2 separate regions of the Homo sapiens genome follow, and region 1 is linked to region 2. The links come from fine-mapping of genetic effects on gene expression. A gene starts in region 2. The other region holds a variant in brackets. All regions are shown on one strand. Distances are between the middles of the regions.

Region 1 (9,995 bases), 300 kb before region 2:
AAAAGTGGCAAAAGGGAACATCCTTATCCTGTTCTAGATCTTAGAGTAAAAGGCTTTCAGCTTTTCCCCATTTGGTATTACATTAGCAGTGGGTTTGTTGTATGTGGCCTTTATTGTGTTGAGGCATATCACTTCTATACCTAATTAAGAGTTTTTATCATGAAGAGGTATTGAACTCTGTCATGATTTTTCTGCATCTGTTGAAGTGATTGTATGACTTTTTTTCATTGTTTTGTTAATGCGGTATGTCATGTTTATTGATTTGTTTATGATGAACCATTCTTATATTCCTGGGATAAATCCCACTTGTTCATGGTGAATTATCTTTTAAATGTGCTGTTAAATTCAGTTTTATAGTATTTTGTTCAGGGTTTTTCTGTCTGTTCTTCAGGGATATTGGCCTATAGTTTTCCTTTTTTGTCTATTTTTGGTATCAGTGTAATGCTGGCCTTGTAGAATAAGTTAGGAAAAATTCCTTCCTCTTCAATTTTTTGGAATACTTTGAGAAGAATTGCTATTAGTTCTTCTGTAACTGTTGGTAGAATTCAGCAGTGATGCCATCAGGTCCTGGGCCTTTCTTTGATAGGAGACTTTTTATTACTGATTCAAGTCTCCTTTCTCATTACTGGCCTGTTCAGGTTTTCTATTTATTCATAATTCAGTCCTGGTAGGTAATGTGGTAGAGGAATTCATTTCTTCTAGGTTTTTCAATTTATTGGCATATAATTGTTCTTTGTATTTCTGTGGTATCAATTGTAATGTCTCCTTTTTTATTTCTGATTTTATTTATTTGAGTCGACTGTCTTTTTTACCTAGTCTAGCTAAAGGTTTGTTGATTTTGTTTCTTTCAAAAAAAAAAAACTCTTTATTTTGTGGATTTTTTTAAAGTCCCTATTTTGTTTATTTCTGCTCTGATCTTTATTCTTTCCATTTGCTAATTTGGGGTTTAGTTTGTTCTTGTTTTTCTAATTCTTCGAGGTAATAGTTTAGGTAGTTTGATTTCTTTCCTCTTTTTTGATGTAGATGTTTATTACTATAAACTTCTCTTTTAGAACTGCTTTTGCTGCATCCTATACATTTTGGTATATTGTGTTTCCATTTTCATTTGTCTTAGCTTTTTAAAATTACTCTTTTAATTCATTAACCCAGTGGTTGTTCAGGAGCGTGTTTAATTTTTATGTATTTGTAATATTTCCAGAATTTCTGCTATTATTAATTTCTAGTTTTATGTCATTGTGGTCAGAAAAGATACTTGATATAATTTTGATTTTAAATTTTTTAAGACTGTTTTTGTGGCCTAATATGATCTGTCTTAGAGAATGTTCCATGTGCAGTTGATAAGAATGTGTTTTCTGCAGCTGTTGAATGGAATGTTCTGTAAACATCTGTTAGGTCTCTTTGGTCTAGACTGCAGTTTAAATCTGCTATTTCTTTGTTGATTTTCTGTCTGAATAATCTGTCCATTGCTGAAAGTGTAGTTTCAAAATCCTCTATTATTATTGTGTTGCAGTCTCTCTTCCTTCAGATTAATATTTGCTTTATATATATTCTGCCATGTTCAGTGTGCATATATATTTACAATTGTTACAACCTCTTGCTGAGTTGACCCCTTTATCATTATGTAATGACCTTGTCTCTTTTCACAGTTTTTGATGTAAAGTCTATTTTAGCTGATATAAGTATAGCTTCTCCTGCTCTCTTACAATTTCAGTTTGCATGGAATATCTTTTTCCACCCCTTCCTTTCCATCTATTTGTATCCTTACAGGTGAAGTTAATCTCTTTCAGGCAGCATATATTTGGATTTTTTAATCCATTCAACCACTCTATCTTATAATTGGAGAATCAGTCCATTTACATTGATAGGTAGGAACTACTGATAGGTAGGAAATTACTACTTCCATTTTGCTAATTATTTTCTTATTTGTTTTTTAGGTCCTTTTATCTTATCTCACTGTCTTCCTTATTGGATAAATTATTTTCTCTGATAGTATGTTTTGATACCTTTCTATTTTTAGTGTATTTATTATAGGTTTTTTTCCTTCGTGGTTACCATCAGGCTTACAAGAAAAAGTCTTACAGTTATGCAGGTTATTTTAAACTGATAACAGATTATCATTGATTACTAAACAAACAAACAAACTCCACACTTTATCTCCTCCCACTTTCTGAATATTTGATTTTCTAACTTTTGATGTTACAACTGTTTTCCTTCAGTACTTTTACTATATCATTGCACTCCCTCCTGGCCTGTGAGATTCCTCTTTGTTGTTGTTGTTGTTGTTTAATTATACTTTAAGTTCTGGGGTACATGTGCATAACATACAGATTTGTTACATAGGTATACATGTGCCATGTTGGTGTGCTGCACCCATTAACTCGTCATTTAACATTAGGTATTTCTCCTAATGCCATCCCTCCCCTAGGCCCCCAATCCCCAACAGGCCCCAGTGTGTGATGTTCCCCTCCCTGTGTCCATGAGTTCTCATTGTTCAACTCCCACTTATAAGTGAGAACATGTGGTGTTTGGTTTTCTGTTCTTGTGTTAGTTTGCTGAGAATGATGGTTTCTAGCTTCATCCATGTCCCTGCAAAGGACATGAACTCATCCTTTTTTATGGCTGCGTAGTATTCCATGGTGTATATGTGCCACATTTCCTTTATCCAGTCTATCATTGAGGGGCATTTGGGTTGGTTCCAAGTCTTTGCTGTTGTAAACAATGCTGCAATAAGTATACGTGTGCATGTGTCTTTATAGTAGAATGATTTATAATCCTTTGGGTATATACTCAGTAATGGGCTTGCTGAGTCAAATGTTATTTCTAGTTCTAGATCCTTGAGGAATTGCCACACTGTCTTCCACAATGTTGAACTAATTTACACTCCTACCAACAGTGTAAAAGCATTCCTATTTCTCCACATCCTCTCCAGCATCTGTTTCCTGACTTTTTAATGATCCTGGCCTGTGAGATTTCTGCTTAGAAGTCTACTGCTAACCATAATGGAACTCCCTTCTATGTTATTTGCCTCTTTACTCTTGCTGCTTTGCTGCTTTTAGGATTTTCTCCTTGTCTTTGACTTTTGAGTTTGAATATAATATATCTTAGGGCAGGGTCATTTAGATTGAATTTGATTGGTAACCTTTGACCTTCCTATATGTGGATATGTATTGCTTTCTTCAGGTTTGGGAATTTTCTGCTATTATTTCTTTAAATAAGCTTTCTGTCCCTTTATTTTTCTCTACTTGAACTGCAGTGACCCAAATATTTGCTTTTTTGATGTTGTCCCATAAACTTCATTCCTTTTCATCCTTTTTTTTTTTTGCCTCCTGACTCTATATTTTAAAATAGCCTGTCTCAAGCTCACAAATTCTTCTGCATGATCCATTCTTCTATTGATGTTCTTTGTTGCATTTTTCATTTTGTTCATTGTATTTTCTTGCTCTAGGATTTCTGTTTGGTTTTTTTATTATTTCAGTCTCCTTGATAAATTTCTGGATTGTTTCTCTATGTTTTCTTGAGGTTTGCTGAGCTCGCTTAAAATAGCTATTTTGAATTCTTTGGCAGATAATACATCTCCATCTTTTAGGATCAGTCACCAGTATCTTACTTTGTGCTTTTGGTGACATCATGTTTCCCTGATCATGATGCTTGTGGTCATGCAGCAGTGTCTGCACATTGAAGATGAATGTAGCTATTTGTTTTAGTCTTCACCATCTTTATAAGGTCTTTTCAAGATCTATAGTATGACTGAGGTCACCATGTTATCCTGCAGAGGCACTACTGGACACCTTTCTCTTTAGGTCCCCAGGTGGGCAGAGCTGTTCTTATTCCACAGATGAGAGGGGTCAGTATCAAGATCCAGGGCCATTTGAGAATCTGCTGATGGACAAGGGTTGCAAAACCTGCCACAGGGACTTGGATACGCCTGTCTCCCGGTAGGACCCCGGCTGGGTAAAACCATTCTCAGACTATCGCTAGGAGAAACTGAAACCAAGCTTCAGAGTTAATTCAGAATGTGCTATGGAACCAATGTTGGTAAGCTTAACCTGGTGGCACCAGCAGTCAAGACTCCCAGCAGTTCCTTATGCAGGGAGGATTGCTTGCATTCTGTAGCTGTGACATTCAAGGTTCTTTCCAGAACTGCTATGTGATGGAAGCCAGCAGGCCTGTCCTACACAGGCAGGATAACTGCCAGGCTGCAGTAGAGAGGGGCTGCAGTCAAGACAAGACTGCTTTAGGATCTATTATGGGAAAGATGCATGAAACCTGTCCTGGTGGCTGGGGCAGGTGCTTCACCCAGCAGTTCCCAATACAGTCGAGATAGCTTCCTGACTGCAGCAAAGAGGCATTGAAGCTGAGACAGGGCCCCTTCAGTCTATTGTGGGATGGAGGACTGCAAGCCTGACCCAGTGGCTCAGACAGGTTCATCTCTTGGCAGTTCTCTGTGTGGGTGAGAGCAGGGAGGCTGCAGCAGGGGAGGGCTGGAGCCAGTACATGTCCCCGTCGGAATCTGCTATGAGACAGAGGCCGGCAAGCCTGTCCTGGTGGCTCAGATGGGCATGTTCCCTTCTGGGTCCTTGTGCAAGCAGTACTAAGCTAGGACTACAGCTTGAGGAGGGCAGGAGCCAAGTTATAGGCTAACTTTTGGGTCCACTGCCAAGACCAATGTCGACAGGCAGAAGAGCCCATCTGCCGAGACCCTAGAGTGTGTGATTTCTCCTGGACCCCTTGACAGATAGTTTTGGTTGCAGACTCTAGGCCAAACAGGGCTGTAGCTAAGTCCTTCAAGGAATGGGACCATTTCTGCATATGAACCTGGGAGCACAATTGGCAGGACTCCCACCTGGGTGT[T/C]GGTATGCACTCTCAAAAACAACACTTCCAGGTCTTGAGTTCTACTGGGGTTTTACAACCTCCTACCTGAATCCAAAGGCTCCCACAAAAAGACTTGTCTGTAATAGGTACAGAATTCTTGTTGTTTTGGGGGGATGTGAGCAGGTGACCTCCTATTCTGTCATCTTCTTGACATCACTCAGAAGTATTGTCTTAAAGATTTTTTTTTCTAAGATTGAGATGTTGAAGATCTAACCATTTTTCATATGTATATACAATTTAGAAAATTTAAGAAATATTTTCTTCATTTATATTTTAAAAATAGTTAAATCATGTTTCTTTCCCTGGTGCTTATGCAAGAGAAAAAGGAATTAAAAGCATCTATGGGAAGGGTTGGTGTATCTACCTCTTGATGGATTTGTCTTGAAATTGTTTCCTTATAGTTTGTATATTACATTTTATTGAGCATATATAAATGCTACCTAGAGCACAGCAGTTTCCTACTGAGATCAGTATGAATTTTAATATCTAGATGACTATTTTATATATGGATGCTACATATTAATGGATTTCTTTTTCTTTAGAAAGTATGTTTCTAAATAATTAAAACATTAGAATAGCTGGAGAAGCTAATTTTGTACGTTTTGTTTTTCCTTCTCCATCTAAGAGAGTTATGTGAAAATTAGTATAACTAATACTAAATAGTTATAATGGAATTTATAGAAACAGATCACTCATTTTCTAAGTATAAAATATTAGGCTACACGTTAAGAGAACTTAATCCAGAAACCATCAGACTTTAGGGACTCAGAAATTGTCCAAAAGATTAAAGGGAGTTATTAGTGTAAAGTGTCCTTAACCTAGAGGCCACAGATGCTGTGAAATTATTTTGCAGAATTTTTCAATGCATATTCATTTTTCTGGAACAAGAATCTGTAGTTGTTATCAGACTTGCAAAGTGATTCGTGAACATCCCCCCTTCAAAAAAAAATAAGACCCAGTGTTTTATGTAGTTAAAAGATGAATTAATTTGCAGCTACTCTTCAGACTTCTATGTGGCTAGCCCAAAAGGCCATGACCCTTTTTCCTCGATATCATTGTTCAGTTTCTCAACCTCTTTTCATTTTTAAAGGAAAAAAGAATTCTATGCCAAAGCTATTATTTCCATTCTACCTACAAATTAAAATTATTGCTTTATTTCATAGGTACTATATTCAAAGAGGTAAAAGTCTATAAGTTCTCCACAGGGTTTCATTTAGCTTGTTTTAAAATGCATGTTAATGAAGTGCAAAATGTCATGCATGACAAAACCATTGGACTTTAATCAATAAAACTAGGTTTTATGGAAGGGACTGGCCTAGTGTCATGATTAAGAACATGGTCTCTAGAGTGAAATTGCCTGGATTTAAGCCGCAGTTTTGCCACTTATAAACTTACCGCAGATCCAATCCTATTATGAATTGTTGCCAAGGCCTTGGGCAAGTCACTGAATCTCAGGGCTTCCTGTATTTCTCCACCCTTGAAGTAGAGACCAGATGCTCACCAAGGTCCCTTCTGACTTTAAAATTTCATCTAATTTTTGTATGTTTTTTATATGTGATAATAACATGACATAAAACTAACGTTTGGGATAAGTGGTAATAATTTCTCTAATATTTTTCTCACATCATTAATATATTAATAAGAAAAATTGAAGCTTATTGAATTGAGTCAACACAGAGAAAGATTACAAAAATACCACAGAATATATGACATGTATCACACTGCAGTTTTTCTCCCATTTTAACCACAGTTGAGGAGGAAGAATCCTACTCCGTTCTTTTTAAATTTCTTTTTCTTTTTTTTCTTTTTTTTTTTTTTAAAACACAAAGCTCAGCTTTCTAATCTAAAAGACATATAATTAAAAAACTTTTTCTTTATAGAGACGGGGGTCTTGCCATGTTGGCCAGGCTAGTCTCACATTCCTGGGCTCAAGTGATCTGCTCGCCTCGGCCTCCCAAAGTGCTAGGATTACAGGTGTGAGCCACTGCTCTAGGCCCTTTACTTTTAATTCGACACAAAATTTAAGGTTACTTAAAAGATTATGTAATAAAAACATCCTGTTCAAAACCAGTTTTGCAGTATCTAGTCCATGTTAAACTAAAAATATAAGTCTATGTGTATGTAGCAAAATATGTTCCAAAACCTACATTTTGGGGAAAGGTTTAGCTAAAAGGGAATAAAAGTCAAATTGGCCTTAGGACATGGAGCCATTTCCCTGGTTTTCCTAAAGCTTTTGTCAAAAATCACCCAAGTTGTAGATAATTTTCTAGTGGGAATATAGTAACATGAGATGCTTAAATAGTATGTTTTAGAGGGAGAATGGAAAATGTCAAGTATCACCATACTCGAGGAATGAGAAAAATCTTTACCGTCTACCTATTTTAACTTGGTGTATTTAATTTTATAATTTTTACTACTTGGAGATGTAAGTTAAATATTTCATTTCACCTAATGACAATTACCATTTAAATCTGCAATTTAAATGGTAGCAATGGATTAACTGTAGATCAGATCATATGTTTAAATCATTTTTCCTTTTCACACACTTTCACTTCATGCTCTGCATCTTAAACATGTCATTGGGAGATTACACTTTTATTTTTATAAAAGCTAATTATTTTCTATGCATAAGAACCAGTACTAAGATAAAGTGCTATTTCAAATAAGAAGTAGGAAAATTTTCTTTTCTAAATTAGTATTCTTTAAATGTTTTCATTATCTATGGCCATACTACCCTGAATGCACCCGATCTCTTCTAAGTATTTTTAAAAGTTAAGATTGATTTTTGATTCTTTCTTATTGGTAAATGTGATTTTCTTTCACAGAAGTTAAAAATAAGGAAGAAAAGGTGAAAGAAGGAGCCAATTTAAATTAAAAGCAGTACAAATGTCTAAGACTGTGTTCTACAGTGGGGTAGCCACTAACCATATGTGGCAATTAAGCACTTGAAATGGGACCAGACTGAATTGACATAGTATATAAAAAAGAATGTAAAATTGTTCATTTTTTTTATATTGATTACCTAAAGAAACATGTTGGATAGATTACCTGAAGAAACATTTTGGAAGAAATATTTTTGATATATTAGGTTGAATAAAATATGTTCTCAAAGTTAATTCTGCCTTTTTCTTTTTAGGTTTAATGTGCCTACTAGGAAATTTTAAATTACATATGTGTCTGACATTATGTTTCTCTTGGATAGCACTGACCTAAAATAGTAATGTCAACACTTGCACTAGTCTGAAATTTAAAACTAGTCAGGACTCAGTTAAACATCCAGAAAATATTTAAATAAGATACTATTTTCAAGCCCCTTACATACTATTAGAATTTGCTTTTACTCTGTAAGTGCTCATCTGATTATGAAGATTAAATAATTCTAAGGGAAAATGTTTATCTTGGTTATGTGTGGTTTACTTGTTTTCAACAAACTTTTTGGTACTCAGATATTTAATGCTACAGATATTTTGGTAGAAAGGACACCTCAATAGAAATACTTCTACCTTTATACTTTTACATGGTTGAACAATATAATGGAGTGCAATATTTCCTCTGGAATAAATCAAGGTCATAGTTGATCATTCCATACCTGTGTAGCACTGGTGAAAAGTAATAATATTGTAAAGGCACTGCATGAAACAACCCTAATCCAAACCTAGATTCCAAATCAGAACTTATTAAAAAGTACACTAATGTAGAGCTGATGGATACTTTATGGGAAGAAAAAACTTTATAAGAATTAATACATTTCTGTACTTAACTGACTGAAAACAAAAATCTACTAAACGTGTATTTTTCAAGGTTTGATTACCACTTTTTAAATCTCTCCTCCAAGTAGTGCATACTAATTTGCTATTGACATTATTGTAGCTTTATTAACAGATGATATAGCTACTTGGTGGGGTCATGCTGAGGGGTTTTTTTTTATTTGTTTGATATGTTTTGGGTGATATTTCTAGTATTTTTAAATAATGAGGTGCTTTGTTGCGATAGCTTGAACAATTGATCTCAGTCCTTTCTAACTGTTGGGTGATTCTGAAGCAGTGAACCAGTGCCCTTTTTTTTCTTTTTCTTTTTTTTTTTTTTTTTGCTTTGCTTTATTAACTATTGGTTTGCTCTGTTACCTGTTCACATGCTCTTACAGATGCAACTAATTCATGAAATTTCGAACTTAAAGAATTTAGTTAAGCATGCAGAAGTATATAATCAAGATCTTGAGGTGAGCATTCATGTTGGTATTTCTATTGATAAGCAATTAGAACTATAAAACATGCAACATATGTAACTGAACATGATGTCAGAAATAAGGGAATTATGTTTTTAAAATATTAGTGACTTTGAATTTTACTATGAATTTAAACTAATATATATAAGTTCTGTTTTAATCCCTTAGACTTCAAATCAGATTCTAAATTGTTACTCTCTCCTTTGATTCTTTTAGAATGAACTCAGTTCAAAAGTAGAGCTGCTTAGAGAAAAGGAAGACCAGATTAAGAAGCTACAGGAATACATAGACTCTCAAAAGCTAGAAAATATAAAAATGGACTTGTCATACTCATTGGTAAAAATCAGGCGTATTTTGTTGTGTAATCACATAAATATATATAGCATACCATCATCTTAGCAAATGCTTATACTGGACCTACTTTGTGCTGTGTATTGTTGTAATAAATTTATATATATTTCATTAAATCTGTCAATAACCCTATGAGATAGGGACTGTTAGTATATTTGCCATTTTAGAGATAAAGTCACATTTGTGGAAAGTTGATCATGTCATCCTTTGAGTAAATATAAGGAAGTTAAGGACAGGCTCCCATTAAAAATCAGTAAGTTTTAGGCCAGGGCACAGTGGCTCATCCCTGTGATGCCAGTACTTTGGGAGGCCGAAGTGGGAGATCACTTGAGCCCAGGAGTTCAAGACCAGCCTGGGCAACATAGTGAGACCTGGTCTGTACAAAATATACAAAAATAAGCCTGGCAGGTACTGCCAGCTACTTGGGTAACTGAGGTGGCAGGATTGCTTGAGCCTGGGAGGTTGAGGCTGCCATGAGCCGAGATCATGCCATTGCACTCCAGCCTGGGCAACAGAGCAAGACTCTGTCTCCAAAAAAAAAAAAAAA
Region 2 (9,995 bases):
TCTTCACATGGTGTTCTCCCTTTGTGTGTGCCCAAATTTCCTTTTTAAAATATTTTAATATAATTTCGACTTTTATTTTAGGTTGAGGAGGTAAATGTGCAGGTTTGTCATATGGGTATATTGTGTGATGCTGAGGTTTGGGATATGGCTGATCCTCCCACCTAGGTAGTGAGGATAGTACCCAATAGTCTTCAACCCTTGACCTCCTGCCTCCCTCCCCTTTAGCAGTTCCCAGTGTCTACTGTTGCCATCTTCATGTCCATGAATACACAATGTTTAGCTCCCAGTTGTAAGAATATGTGTTATTTGGTTTTCTGTTTCTGTGTTAATCTCCTTAGGATAATGGTCTCCAGCTGCATCCATATTGCTGCAAAGGATAAGATTTTGTTCATTTTTCTGTTTTGCCAATTTTTTTTTTTTTTTGAAGACAGAGTCTTACTCTGTTGCCCAGGCTGGAGTGCAGTGGCACGATCTCAGCTTACTGTGACCTCTGCCTCCTGGGTTCAAGCGATTCTCCTGCCTTGGCCTCCTGAGTAGCTGAGAATACAAGTGTGCACTACCACACCCGGCTAATTTTTGCATTTTTAGTAGAGACGGGGTTTCACCATGTTGGCCAGGCTAGTTTCGTACTCCCAACCTCAAGTGATCTGCCTGCCTCAGCCTTCCAAAGCGGTGGGATTAAAGGCATGAGCCACACCGTACCTGGCCTGTTTTGCCAATTTTTAAATGTGAGTTGTTCATCTTCTTATTGAGCTCAATACTGAGCAAGGACCTAATATACATATTGACTTTTACATCCCTTTTTTTTTTTTTTTTTTTTTGAGACGGTTTCGCTCTGCTGCCTAGGCTGGAATGTAGTGCCACGACTCAAGCAATTCTCTTGCCTCAGCCTTCCACGTATCCCACTATTAAGATAAATAACAGGACCAAAAAGGAAGAATGAAAGAACCAGCACCATCAGAGAAACAAAATCTAGGCCACTCACAGTGCCTCACACCTATAATTTCAGCACTTTGGGAGGCTGAGGTGAGTGGATAGCTTAAGCTCAGGAGCTCAAGACCAGCCTGGGCAACATGGCAAAACCCCGTCTCTAAAATAAGATACAAAAAAATGAGCCAGGTGTGGTAGCGTGCACCTGTAGTACCAGCTACTCAAGAGGTTGAGGTGGGAGGATGGCTTGAGCTTGTGAAGTCAAGGCTGCAATGAGTGGGTAGAGATCATGCCACCTGCACTCCAGCCTGGGCAACAGAGTGAAACCCTTTCTCACAAAAGAAAACCAAAATCTAGTCAGAAAAGAAAATTTCAAAGCAACTTGAATAGCTGATTTGGTCAGGCTTTGTGTCCCCACTGAAATCTCATCTTGAATTATAATCCCCATAATCTCGTGCCAAGGGAAAGACCAGGTGGAGGTAATTGGATTATGGGTGTGGTATCCCCCATGCTGTTCTGGTGATAGTGAGTGAGTTCTCATGATATCTGATGGTTTTATAAGGGGCTCTTCCTCCTTTGCTCGGCACTACTTCCTGCCATGATGTGAAGAAGGTGCCTTGTTTCCCCTTCGCCTTCCGCCATGATTGTACGTTTCCTAAGGCCTCCCCAGCCATGCTGAACTGTGAGTGGATTAAACCTCTTTCCTTTATAAATTACCCAGTCTTGCGTAGTTCTTTATAGCAGTATGAAAACGGAATAATACGGTAGCTACCAATTTTAGCATAAATTTTCTGAAAGTTTAGACATTGTCAAAATGAAGTATCTTCTTTGGGAAACAAAATTAGGTTTAACCTTTTATTATATATAGTGACACAGGCTAGCTATGACACCTATTCCTTATGACATATAAATACTATTATTAAAACATTTTTTAATAATAGCTAAAAATGACATAAAATGACATAAAAATGACATAGACAAACTCCGATCTTAATGAGGAATTACATTCCACAGAACTAGAACAGAATTTTTCCATTTCAAATTTTCAAACATCTACATATAATATAGCCATATCATCTTATGATACCATAAAAATAATACTGGCAGCTTGGTTGCTAGTTATTTTATAACATATTTTCTCATTTATCATATGTAGCTAAACACAGAAATTATTTCTATTTCTTAACTGTAGAAAAGATAAAATATTTTCAATGCATGAGTTTACTATTACCACTTAAAACCTAAGGTAGGGCTGGGCGCAGTGGCTCACACCTGTAATCCCAGCACTTTGGGCGGCCGAGGCAGACGGATTACCTGAGGTCAGGAGTTCAAGACCAGACTGGCCAACATGGTGAAACTCCGTCTCTACTAAAAATACAAAAAATTAGCCAGGCATGGTGGCACATGCCTGTAGTCCCGGCTACTTAGGAGGCTGAGGCATAAGCATCGCTTGAACCCAGGAGGCAGAGGTTGCAGTGAGCCGACACTGCACTCCAGTGTGGGCAAAAGAGACTCCCTCTCAAAAAACAAAACAAAACAAAAACCTAAGTTAAACATAAATTAGATAATCACAGTAATTTATCTTGAACGCCTCACTCTTGAAAATGTGACATAAACAAAGATAGTTAAGTTGTTTCTGATAGGTGAGAACTGCCTGTATTTAACTAGTATATGGTCATTAAAGATCTCCATGTGGTTTCTAAGAATGCAGAGTCATCATAAGAGAGTCAATAGCTTTAAAAAACAGCTAGATTTAAATAGGGAAGGAAATGTAGGCAATAATAATGTGAACTGTATTGTTTTTTGCTCTAATTTTCATAGAAGAAAATGGAAATATTTTTTGGTCTCCTAGACATTTTAAACAATTGCTAAAAAGTTGTCTTCCAGGTTTTTATTTTAACAAAAGTGTACATTATGGATTCTACAAGTAACTCATTTAAGAAAGCCAAATGTCATTAACTGTTACAATCTATTCAGAATGGGAGACCGAGAGTGGAAAATAGCCACTGAAATTTTTCTTCTATAGTACTCCAAAATAAACCCTGCAATTGTTTTGTCCAATCCAAAAAGGGCTATCTCATGTTTTTCATAAACCAGTTATTACAAGCATGTTCATGTTTCCTAAATAAACCAGCAATAAAATGAGAACTATTAACTATAGCCACACTGTAATGGGACTTAAGTTAAATGTATGTTATTAAAATACTTCTCAGAATGGTCATTATTTCTGAGAATCAGTCTTCATATTAAATATTTAACAACTTTTAAGAGGAAGTTACTATATATTCTTAAGAGAGAAAAGGTTTTGGTTGAGTTTTCTTAATGTCTTTAATAGGAATTAAATATTTGTTGACACTAGGGATCCTCAAGAAAAGAAAGCATACTTCTAAAATCTAGCCATTAAATCTAGTTTCATACTTTCTAATTTTCTTCAATTATACTTGATTTACAGAGAATCGAAACTAATACAAATGCAGCCACCATCTGGAAAAAACATAGGTAATTCATTGGACATTTTCCTTTCTTGACTGTTAAAAATTCCTCAACAGTTAACTTATGCAAATTAGTAAGAAGGTACAAATGTCAAAATGACAAAAGGGTACAAAAGTCACAATATGATCATACCGTTTTGGCCTGGTATTGCTATTTAAGTGAAGACATCCAAAAGGGAGAAATATGACAACTGGTATTTGCTTACTTGCCAATGAACTATTACATAATGAATTTTAAAAAATAGAAACATTTCTAATTTCCAGTTGTAAGGGAATGAATGGTTAGGCCCATTGTGATGTTAAAACTAAAATAAGTATTTAGTTGTTAGGGAAAAAATGAGGATTATATTAAAATATGTAAAGTACTTAAGTAAAAGAAGTGGGGAAAGCCAAAATTTTATGGAATTGCTGCAATTCTGTCAGAGTAAACTGGTAGGATCAAAAGATCTGATGTTTATAAACACTTGATGTGAAACGTTTTTCATTTTATTTTACTTTTGCATTGCTTCTGATGTTTAATGTTCCTTTTTAATGTTTATTATTGTTACCATGCTTTCTATTCAATTGCATGTTTTCTACTAAAACTCTTAATATTTAAAAAATATTAAAATCTCACAATCCACTCAACAGAGCGTCTGTCTGACCATAATTCAATGAATCTCTAGATTTGGAAGAGAATTTGTCATCTAGTTTATCCCTTCTAAATCTATCGACCACCCACCACCAGAGTCTTTTTGTTTGTTTTTTTCATCTTTGAGAGGGGCTATCACTGAAGCACCACATTTGTTTGGGGAAAGCATTCTTTAATTTAAAAAAAAATCTTCCTTAGACTGAAATTCACCTCCCAATAACCTTCACTAATTTGGTTAATTTGTTATCAGTTCTATATTTTAGTCTACACAAATCTTATTTTTCTTCTACCAGACAGCTGTGCGATTGCTGTATTTTAGGTCAGGTACTACAGATCTTTAGAACGTTCCCGGCGAAGCAACCCTATTTACCTCAGAATTATCTTAATTCATGTTTGCACTCCCTGATAACCTAGGACATAGGAGTTCAATACTTGCTGATTCCTTCACCATCCTACTCGGTCTGAGTTCCGTTTAGAAATATCCCCCTTACAATGAAATGCTCATAACTCAACACAATCTCCCAAGTGTTGACTGCATTCTGGAGATTTTCATCCTTTAGATGTGAAATCCTCATGAGTTGTGTGGGTTAAGTGAGGGTCCTTAAGTATAGAACGTTACATATATTCACTAAATTTCATTTTCTAAGATTTCACTCCTCATACCGGCCTTCGAATACTTTCTTGGGTAAGGTATCTTTCTTCCAACTTAAGTTACCGCAGCGGGCCCCGGGACCGTAGAAACGGAGATGACCTCAAATGCCACCTATGATAGGTCAATTCTAACCTGAGGGAATGGAGGTTATCTCCTAATTTCGTTACTAAATAAAACGGTCATATACGTGTTACGTGTAAGTCTATATTTCTCTCCCACACACTCCCACCCACATGCTGAGGGTACAACCCAGCCGGTAGCTGGGGCTGCCTGTTACATGAGGCCTTAGATAACGACGACTTAGCCCGCTTTAAAATAAACAAGTACGCTACAGAGAGCGATGAGCAGGACAGGAGATGAAAGAGACTGGCCTGTTCCCAACTCAGCACCTTCTCTGCAAAAACCTGGTATCTTGCCACGGAATGACACCGGAGACAACTCCGAGGACAAAAGACCCTGGGGCATCAAGCACCCGGAGACTGCCTCACAGGCGTTCCCCAGGCAGCTGCGTCGGCGCGCGCCCACCTTCCTCTGCGCGCGGGGATCACGTGCCAGGCGCCGAGCTCCGTCCCGCCCCTTGGCCCTAGGATTTTTACGCCTCCTTCCCCCGCTTGGCGAACGTGCAAGGATGGGGACTGGCTGATGGGGGAGGATTACCTGTGAGCCTAGCGAACCCGGTAATGCTTTCAGGGACTGGGAGCCGCTTCAGATATGCAGGGAGCTGCACCTTCACGATACGGGCCACGCTCTCCAGCACCATCCTGGCCAGCGGCGTCCACTCCTCTCCCGAGCCCCCTCCGCTCTGGCCAAGCTGCCGCGCCTGCGCCGGGAGCGGAAGCGGCCGGCGGGCACTGGCGGCCTCGGCCTGGGCGGCGGGCGGGGCGGCGGGCCCTGGGAGGAGAGGTGACCTGCCGGGCGCCGATTGGCGGCGGGCGAGTGACGTACGCTCGCGGCGGACTGCCGAGGCGCGGGAACTGGCGGGTAGCGAGGCCCTCCTCGGAATCTCGTGTGAAGGTGGCCCTCCTCTTGGGCCTTTAACGTCTGTAGATGCTGGAGACCAGCAGAAAGGATACTGTGTGCGATGAGATAAGCATGTGAGAATGCTTTCTAACCGAAAGTGCCTTTCAAAAGTGAGTCTCTTGCTGTCTCTACTTCGTCCCCTCTCGCCCCGCCTCTTCCCCTACAGTTTGGGTGCTGTGGCCCTAGGGTTGCATACTCGCCCATGAGTATCCTCCCCCTACCCAGACCCCAGTGCCTAATTTTACTCCTTCACCCAAAGGCCAGGCTTAAAAAAATAAAAATTAAAATATTTTAACTAAACCAGGAACTGTTTACATCTCTGCCCCTTGGCAACTTAACTGCAGCCCTAGCTCCAAAAACCTCTGGTTTTTGCCACTCAGAGAAGATTCGTAGTAGTCCTTCCTTAGATATTTTCAGTTCCTTTTCCTTCGGGAAAGTGGTAAAAGAATCCAAAGCTGGCCGGGCGCGGTGGCTCACGTCTGTAATCCCAGCACTTAGGGAGGCCGAGGCGGGTGGATCACGAGGTCAGGAGTTCGAGGCCAGCCAGGTCAAGATGGTGAAACCCCGTCTCTACTAAAAATAGAAAAATTAGCCGGGCGCGGTGGCAGGTGCCTGTCCCAGCTACTCGGGAGACTGAGGCAGGAGAATCGCTTGAACCAGGGAGGCGGAGGTTGCAGTGAGCCGAGAATGTGCCACTGCACTCTAGCCTGGGAGACAGAGCAAGACTCCGTCACAAAAAAAAAAAAAAAAAAGAATCTAAAGCCTTATGTATGGTTTTCTTTATGTTACAAGGCTTCTGCTGAAGTCTAGCGCAGGGGGTCCTTATGGCTTCCCTAGGCCACACTGGAAGAAGAATTGTCTTGGGCCACACATAAATACACTAACACTAATGGTAGCTAATGAGCTAAAAAAAAATTTTTTTTCATAAAGTTTTAAGAAAGTTTACAGATTTGCATTGAGTGGCATTCAAAGCCATCCTGTTGGGCAAGCTTGATCTTGAAGGTTTTAATTTTGTTGTTGTTGTTGTTGTTACAAGGTTTCGCTCTATCGCCCAGGCTGTAGTGCAGTGGTCAGATCATAGCTCACCGCAGACTCTAACTCCGGCTTAAGGGATCCTTCTGCCTCAGCCTTCCAAGTAGCTGGGTTTACAGGCGTGTGCTGCCACACCCAACGAATTTTAAAAATTTTTGTGTGTATGTAGATGGAGTCCCATTATATCGCCCAGGCTGGATAGTTGTTTTTATTAATATCTCTAAAAGATTTGAAGGGTAAGAGGAGAAAATTTCACTCCCTTGAAATAACTTTCTTGCTATGACTTTGTTTCATATTTTGGCTGAAGTCAAAATGTCCGAAGTTGTGCACTTGCTGATTGGATAATGTGTGTGATATCTTAATAATATGCCTCATTATTTACAGTTCTACACTTAACAACATATAATAACGAACTGCTAATGGTCCAGTATTTCATTGTGTATGACAGTGTAACAGCCAGTTATAATAAATACTTTCCATTTTTCCCCTTGGTATTTTTATTTTACAGTGAGAAAAGGAAGGAATTTTTTAAAGCAATCTTTCATTCTCTGGACTGTATAAATTTAGTGTTTGTGATTGTCCTTCACTAAAAAAGAATATCAGTAATAGAGTTGACCAAAATCTAGATTAAATAATTTTCTATCATTATAATTGTTCAAAATTGTTAAAGTAAAACTTACAATGGAAATTCTACAAACACGTTTAGATACAGGTTCATGTTTTTGAGCTAGGGCAGTATAGAAGATGGTGTATACAAAGTGATGTTTAAAAGGTTGATGGGATTTCCTTTAGAGAGAGTTTGGAGGTAAACCCTGGAGCTTTTTTATCCTGAAGATGATGGAACTTGAATATCCTTGTCCTCTGGACTATTCTGTTAACTGTTATCTTTAATCTCTGTGGATCTAATGTAGAAGCACCCTTGGGTACAACTAGATACCCTAGTTGAGGTAGGGGTAGGTTGGAAGTGGGGTACATTAGGAAAAGAAAATCTGGAAAAGGCCATTACCTATTCGTTTCTTCTCTTAGAGGATCTGTCATCTTGACAAGGGCAAGACGTGCTGTGTTGAGTTTAATTTTTCCCCTTGGTATTTTAAAGTGAGAAAAGGAAAGAATTTTTTTAAAGCAACTTTACATTCTCTGGACTGTATAAATTTAATGTTTGTGATTGTTGTGCATTAAGAATAAGACCTCCAAGCAGTTTTTCTTTAAAGAATTAAAAAATACATACCTCAATTTAAAGATATAGTAAAATGCTCAAATGCCAAATGTACAGTTCCAGGTAACCACCACCCACATCAATATACAGAATGTTCAATAGAGGCGTTTTTAAAAAGCGACCCTTCCAACCACATCCACCACCATTACTACTATTCTGTATTGCTGTGCATGTTTTTGACCCTCACATATAAGTAATTTTACAGTATGTAATTTTTTATGGTTGGCTTACTTCCTCTTAGCAGTTTATGTGAATAGCTGGTTTGCTATTTTCAAGTAGAAAAAATGTAGTGAATGCAAGTCTATATGGATAAAACTTTTTTGGGAGGCCTTGAAATTCAGAGAAAAGGTGTGGATCATATATTAGGTATTCTGATGCATTACATGAGCTATGCGAATGTGTAATAGGAGATAATTCCTAACTCCACCAATTTAAAAATCCTTATTATCCACTTAAAAGGAATATTTTCTTAAATTCCCTTTACTTAAAATTTAAATCCTGTTTTCATTTATATTTGTATTTCATTTCCACAACCCTGCCTTCTTGGCTGCACATGAAACATGGTCTAAAGATAATATTGCTCTAAATAGATGTAATAGGCTTATCTGACCACCTTATGCGATAGTGTTTTTAGACTCCATCTTTAAAAGACATAAAGAAACTGTGGTCAGAAAACTCAAGATAAATATGTAAATACAGTTAAAGGAGTCATTATTTACTTTCAAGCACTTGAGCTTGGATCACTCATCTTCTGCCTGTCCTAGCTAGGCCCAAGACTTTTATTTCTTTCATGTTTTTTTCCCATTAGGTCATCCAGTGCCCCAAATTCAAATATGATCGTTAAGATATAGCCCAAATCTCTATTTCCAGCCCAGATTTCTTTAGGCTAATCTTAATTCTAGGAGTCTAATTCCAAATGCCTACTAGTCTGCTCTTGACATCTTTGCCCACTGTGCTATTGGTTTGTTCATCAGTTTCACTGGTACATGTTTTCTGGAAAATATTACCTTGTTGGTTACATTGGTTGCTTATCTTTTCCTGTTGCTTATCTTCTCCTAGTGTATGTCTTTTTTTTTTTTTTTTTTGGTTGAGACAGAGTCTCTGTTGCCCAGGCTGGAGTGCAATGGCGCGATCTCAGCTCACTACAACCTCTGCCTCCCAGGTTCAAGTGATCCTCCTGCCTCAGCCTTCCATGTAGCTGGGACTACAGGCGCCCGCCACCACTCCCGGCTAATTTTTGTATTTTTAGTAGAGACGAGGTTTCACCATATTTGCCAGGCTGGTCTTGAACTCCTGACCTCATGATCCACCTGCCTCTGCCTCCCAAAGTGCTGGGATTACAGGCGTGAGCCACCGTGCCTGGCCGTGTATGTCTGTTTTTATACTGAAATTTGGTTTGGGTGTAGTCAAATTTATTCATCTTTTTCTTTACAATTTGTGTTCTGGGAGTCTTGTTTAAGAAATCTTTTTCTACCCCTAAATCACAAAGGTATTCACCTGTGTTTTTGCTAAAAGTTTTAAACTTATATTCTTCATATTAGGGCTTTACTCAACCCAGTACTTACTTTTTGTGCATGAGAAAGGGATCTACTCTCATTTGTTATTATTTTACATACAGACAACTATGTTCTAGCACCATTTATTGAAGAGTTAAACTTGTTTTTGTGGTTTGTAATGTCACTTATCTCAAATCAGGTTTCCACACATCCTGGGTTGCTTATTCTCTTCCATTGCTGTATTTGTATAACCTCTATAACAATACCATACTGTCATAATTGCTACAACTATATAAGTAAGTGTTAATATCTAGCAAGATAAGCTTCCCCACCTGTTTTCTTCAAATTGCATTGTGAATGCCTGGCCTTGTTACTACTCTATGAATTTCAGAGTCCTCTTGTCAAGTTGTATGAAAAACTTAACTTTTTACTGAAAATTAATTAGGGCCTCAGTTTTCTTCTCTTTGATATGGTGATACCAGTGGTTATGACTAGATACAATTAATTTTGTAATATACTCAATGAA

Evidence for each region. PIP is the estimated chance that this variant, and not a neighbour inherited with it, causes the effect.
Region 1: its variant is fine-mapped to the expression of CISD2 in whole blood (TOPMed, PIP 0.96).

The regions. Positions count from the first base shown.
Region 1 is chr4:103,162,575-103,172,569 of GRCh38, reverse strand. It overlaps CENPE (centromere protein E), which reads left to right. Exons shown (of 49, transcript NM_001813.3): 17 at 9,017-9,091; 18 at 9,314-9,433. Among named protein-coding and RNA genes, the nearest start is that of CENPE, 31 kb to the left of the region's middle. The variant T/C (reference allele first, on the strand shown) is at 4,852.
Region 2 is chr4:102,864,555-102,874,549 of GRCh38, reverse strand. It overlaps CISD2 (CDGSH iron sulfur domain 2), which reads right to left and starts at 5,558. Exons shown (of 3, transcript NM_001008388.5): 1 at 5,363-5,558. The coding sequence starts at 5,465. It also overlaps a transcript of UBE2D3 not described here. RefSeq lists silencers at 5,298-5,417, 5,448-5,737 and an enhancer at 5,968-6,107.